Linked DNA regions of Homo sapiens: region 1 is linked to region 2. Evidence: fine-mapped expression QTL. Tissue or cell type: whole blood. Region 2 holds a variant in brackets; the other region holds the start of a gene. All regions are shown on one strand. Distances are from middle to middle.

Region 1 (2,665 bases), 27 kb after region 2:
GCCTGCCTCCTCCGGGACCACCGGGCCTGGCTCCTCTCACAGACTCTTTGAGAGCGTATTTGTGAAACGTAGCATATTGTGGGTGATTAGATTTAAATTTCAATACACTTTGTTAAAAATAGAGTTGGCTCTCGCCAAGAGGAGGCCGCAGGAAGGGGCTCTCAACGGCTCGTCTTTGGAATATTAATAGTATGGAAATGTTATTAGAATAATTTTTCATCATGAATAATAAATTAATGGAATAATTCGGCAGCGCCACGTGACATACCCTGCTAAGAGGGGCTTTGTTTTAACAGAATGGGGAGGGTGGGTTTGGGGTGTGGGGGAGGGCAGAGCTGGGGGAGGGTCCGCCCAGGGCAGGCGGGGTTGGGTGGAAGTGAGTGAGGTGCCTGAAGAGATGAAGGCTCCGGAGGCATTTGGGGAGGAGGACAGAGACCTGGGACCAAGTCCTCAGGCACTTTTAGCTTCATGTCTCAGCCAGGGTTCTGGCCCTGGCCGGCTCCTTCCCACAGAAAAGCTGGGAAGAGATCTTGGTAGGTGTCCGGCCCCACACACCATCCTGCTGGGGGTGGCTGGGTTGGACTTCACCATCCCCACAGCCCTGCAGCCTCCCCTCCTGCATCTTTCTCCTTGGTAAATGCCAGGAACCTCAAAAGCACCCAGAGGCCCAGAGAAATTGAGCACACAGGGGTGGGGAATTCAAGAGCAGGAGCTGTTTCTAGGGCCCCAGGGGCAGGGCCAGGGTCTCCTGGTCATTTCTGTGCTCGGGACCCCTGCTGCACCTGAGCTCACTGTGGAAACTGCCTGAGGGGGCCACACGGAGCTGATGGGGACAAGCATGCAGGGTGGGCACCCTTGTGGGCTCAGCTTGGTCCAGGGTGTCCACTGGGGGACGGGGAGGGAGATGGAGCACCAGGGAAGAAGCGTCTCTTCATGTGGTCAGCGCCCCCTCCTTCTCCCCACTCCCTCCTTTTGCCTCCCTTCCTGCTGCTGCCTGCACGGTGAGAACAGAGATGAGATGGCCCCTGCCCGGGAGCAGTCAGCGGCACCACAACCCTCCCAGGCCAACCCAGCTCCTGACAGAGAGGGAGGGAGGCAGCCTGGGGCTGGGGGCCCTGGCAGCAGTGGCACACGGAGTGTGCACATGGATCCTAGTCAGCCTTTTGCAGGGCGCTGAAGCCAGTGGGGGCCCCCAGGGAGGTTTTGGGGGAGTGTTGAGGGGGCCTGAAGGGTTCCGCTCCTCCCACCCAGGGAACCGCCATGCCACTAGTGGGCTGTCCTGGAGACTCGGGGAGAAAGCACACAGGCTGTCGGGAAAGGTGGGTCGCAGGCGGGCAGGGCAGCCCTGCTGTACTGATGGGCAGGCGCTGGGTGGGTGGAAGGCAAAGCCATCAGGTCATCCCCCTCTCTGTCCCTGCATTGGGCCAACCAGGTGTGTCAGGAGGATATTTGACCATTCCTGAGAGGCACATTCTCTCTCTCTCTCTCTCTCTCCCTCTCTCTCTCTCCCTCTCTCTCTCCCTCTCTCCCTCTCTCTCCCTCTCTCTCCCTCTCTCTCCCTCTCCCTCTCTCTCTCCCTCTCCCTCTCTCCCCCCTCCCTCTCCCTCCCTCTCCCCCTCTCCCTCTCCCTCTCTCCCCCTCCCTCTCTCTCCCTCTCTCTCCCTCTCTCTCCCCCTCTCTCTCCCTCCTCTCTCTGTCACACACATTTGCACATCCTGCAGTGTGAATGGAGTATGAATGTGTGTGGTAGGCGACAGCTGTGTGTGTACGTCCGGGTGCGTGTGTGCGTGTGTACATGTGAGCGTGTGTGCACGTGAGTTAGAGCCTGAGTGTCCCCTGCGTGGGTTAGTGTGTGCGCCCGCCCGGTGCCCTCCGTCTTGGGAGTCTGGGCTGCTGCTCCGCGGGCTCTGGAGCCGGCGCTCCCCACGAGCCCGGACTCTCCGCCGCGCCCGGGAGCTGCGCAATCGGCTGCTAAGACGCCGGCGCCACCGGCTGGGCCCTGTTCTCCCCTCTCTTTTCTACAGTCTTACCCGCAGCTGACAGGGTTCGAAAGAGCATGAAACGGAGGAGACGTTACAGCAACGTGTCAGCTGAAATGATGGGCGTAGACGCACGTCAGCGGCGGAAATGGTTTCTATCAAAATGAAAGTGTTTAGAGATTTTCCTCAAGTTTCAAATGAGGCGAATCCCGTTTTCCGCGATGCTGCAGCGCGCGGGTTTTAACCGCAGGGTCACGCGGAACGCCGCGCCGCGCGACTGTGCCTCGGTCTCTGCGCCCGGCTCTCCCTCCGGTCCGCAAGAGGAGGAAGGCCCGCGGCGTGCCGAGGTCAGCGGCGCGGAGCCACCAGGCGAGACGGTCACGGACGCCTGAACCGAGGTCACCGAGGCCACGGGGCCGGGAGGCCCTCAGCAGAGCCCGGGGGCTCCGCACCTCAAGGCCGGCCAGGAAGAAACAGCAGCAGGAGCCCAGGGCGCCCCGGGGAGCCCCCGACACGCGGGCCGAGCGCCCAGAGCGGCCCAGGCCCTCGCGAGGAGACCGGCCTCCCCAGGGCGGGGCTTCCGACTCGGGCGCCCGTGAGCCCCGGAGGCGGCGCGAAGGGGCAGAGTCCGCGTTTCTAACCAGCCCCCGGGTGGGCGGTGGCCCGCGCGGCACGGTGGGCGCGAG
Region 2 (2,848 bases):
TGCCTGCTCTGAAGGAGGGGCTTCCCAATGTAGAGGTCCCAGTGGCCCTGGGTCCCAGCTGGGGGTGGACTTTGGTGACAGGCAGCCCCCACCTGAACTGGAGGAGCCTCATCGAGGGTCCTAAATGATACTACAGATGAGACGTGCATTTCAAATCTGAGGGCAAGGCTGGGACCCTGGGCCCTGGCACGTGGGACTCTGGAATCCACCTGAGTGCCCATTCCTGCAGGAATTCCTGAGATTGCTTGGCACCTTGCGGGTTGTGGCTGGTACTGAGGTGAGCGGTTGAAATGTCCCCCAGGACTGGTCAGCTGCCCTCCCAGTTGGGCTGGGTGCCCAAGTGTTCACAGGGCTCTTGGGAGGACCTGGGTGGCCTTGTGCACCCTGGGGGCTGTTGGTCTAAGGGTGCAGGGGCTCCCTGGAGGTCGGGAGCTCTCCCTGGGGCCAGCTGCAGCCCTGCGATGTGCCCTCCCCTCCCTGCACAGGCTGGACACACAGGGACACTTCTTCCCCGGAGGCTTCTCCAGTCCCCAGGAATCTGTCCCCCACCTGTCATCAGGAAACTTCAGAAGATCAGGAATTTTTTTCTGGAGCTGCATTTTGCACAGTTTCCTCTTTTTAAGGGAGGAGGCTCGGAGTCTCCGGTCACCACAGCCGATTTCCCTGAAGCCTCCGCAGGGGGCCACCCCCACAGAGTTTTATATGCTAACAGTTCTTAAATTCGGAGTCCTGTGGGAAGGTGGGAAAGTTAGGTATATACACTTTTTAATGTTTTTGTTTTTGTTTTTTTGTTCTACTCAAAAAGTCATTGGTACCTAGGTAACACACTTAAAGAAAGGCACACTTTGTGGCTGGGCACAGTGGCTTACACCTGCAATCCCGGCATTAGGGGAGGCCGAGGCGGGCCAGTCTCGCTTGAGCCCAGGAATTTGAGACCAGACTGAGTAACATAGTGAGACCGCATCTCTACTAAGAAAAAAAAGGTTAGCCAGGCGTGGTGGTGCGCACCTGTGGACCCAGCCACTTGGGAGGCTCAGGTGGGAGGATCACTTGTACCCAGGTGGTTGAGGCTGCAGTGAGCCGTGATCAGGCCACTGATCTCCAGCCTGGGTGACAGAGTGAGACCCCGTCTCAAAATAATAACAATAAAATAAAGGCACATTTTGAGAACAGAAGATGTTTCTGAGTTTCACATGTTGCCATATCCTGTGGACAGCTTATAGTGGGACACCAGGGCAGATATTGAAGTTTGATGTAACTTGTGAATGGCTTAAAAAGTGGTAATTTCTTGGGATCAGAAAGCTGATTAAGGCAAGGCTGAGAGGAGTCAGCTTGCCTCTCTTCCACAGCGTCCACTGGGACAGTTCAACCCTATCTGCGGGACCAATCTCCAAGACGTGAGTTGGCACAGCCATCAGTTCGTCTCCATGGATGTCTCCACGGGCAACCTGAGCTCCCACGTGGCATGGTGATGGTTCTGAAAGTGGGTGTTCCAGGAGACAGGAAGTGCCAGTTCC[T/G]TAAGGCCTGGGCCTGTGGTAAAATATGCATAACACGATTTACCTTATTAGCCATTTTAAGTGGTATTGAGTCTGTTCATAATGTTGTGCGGTCATCACGACTGTCCACCTCCAGAACTCTCTTCATCTTGTAAAACTGAAACTCTGTCCGAATTAAACAACTCCCATCCCCCCTCCCTCAAGCCTCAGCACCCACCGTTCTACTTTCTGTCTATGAATTTGACTAAGTACCTCACACCAGTGGAATCGTATAGTATTCGCCTTTTTGCGACTGTCTTATTTCACTTTGTATCAAGTCCTCAAATTTCATCCACGTTGTAGCATGGGTAAATTTCCTTCCTTTTTAAAGGCGGAATAATATTCCATTGCGTGGATAGACCATATTTTGTATAGTCGTTCATCCTTCAATGGATATGGGGTTCATATTAGCTGTTATGAACAGTGCTGCTATGAACATGGGTTCACAGCATGCACATCTGCTATAGGTTATCTTTGAGACCCTGCTTTCAATTCTTTTGGGGGTGCACTCAGAAGTGGAATGGCTGGATCACGTGGTCATTCTATTTGGAGTTTTTTGAGGGAGTGCCATCCTGTTTTCCACAGTGGTGGCACCATTTTACACCCCCACCAGCCATGCACGAGGGTTCGTTTCTCCACATCCTCACCAACATTTGTTATTTTCGGTTTTTTCTCACAGTAGCCATCCCAGTGGGTGTGAGGCGCATCGCACTGTGGTTCTGATTTGCATTTTCCTCGTGGTTAGCGATGTTTCATGTGCTTATTGGCCATGTGTATGTGTTCTTTGTAGAAATGTTTATCCAAGTCCTTTGCCCATTTCTGAGTTAGGTTTTTTGTTGTTGTTGAGTTTTAGAAGTCCTCTGTATATTATGGATATTAATCCCTAATCAGATATATGATTTGCAAATATTTTCTCCCATTTTCTGGGTTGCCTTTTTTCCCTGTTAATATTGTCTTTTGGCTGGGCATATTAACTCTGCCTGTAATCCCAGCACTTTGGGAGGCCAAGGCAGGAGGATCACTTGAGGGTCAACAACCTGGGCAACATAGTGAGACCCTGTCTCTACAAAAACATAAAATAAAAAACAGCCTGGCACAGTGCTCCATGCCTGTAGTCCTAGCTTCTTGGGGGGCTGAGGCGTGAGGATCACTTGAGCCTAGGAGTTCAAGGTTGCAGTGAGCTGTAATTGTGCCACTGCACTCCAGCCTGGGCAACAGAGCGAGACCCTGGCTCTTAAAAAAAATAGTCTTTTGGTACAAAAATATTTATTTTTTACGAAGTCCAATTTGTCTGTTTTTTTCTTTTGTTGCCT

Evidence for each region. PIP is the estimated chance that this variant, and not a neighbour inherited with it, causes the effect.
Region 1: HAR1A starts here. The variant in region 2 is fine-mapped to the expression of HAR1A in whole blood (INTERVAL, PIP above 0.99).

The regions. Positions count from the first base shown.
Region 1 is chr20:63,100,085-63,102,749 of GRCh38, forward strand. HAR1A (highly accelerated region 1A) reads left to right here and starts at 1,208. Exons shown (of 2, transcript NR_003244.2): 1 at 1,208-2,665. HAR1B (highly accelerated region 1B) reads right to left here and starts at 2,235. Exons shown (of 3, transcript NR_152601.1): 1 at 2,031-2,235. RefSeq lists a silencer at 2,284-2,665.
Region 2 is chr20:63,073,405-63,076,252 of GRCh38, forward strand. No RefSeq gene overlaps it. Among named protein-coding and RNA genes, the nearest start is that of LINC01749, 5.2 kb to the right of the region's middle. The variant T/G (reference allele first, on the strand shown) is at 1,518.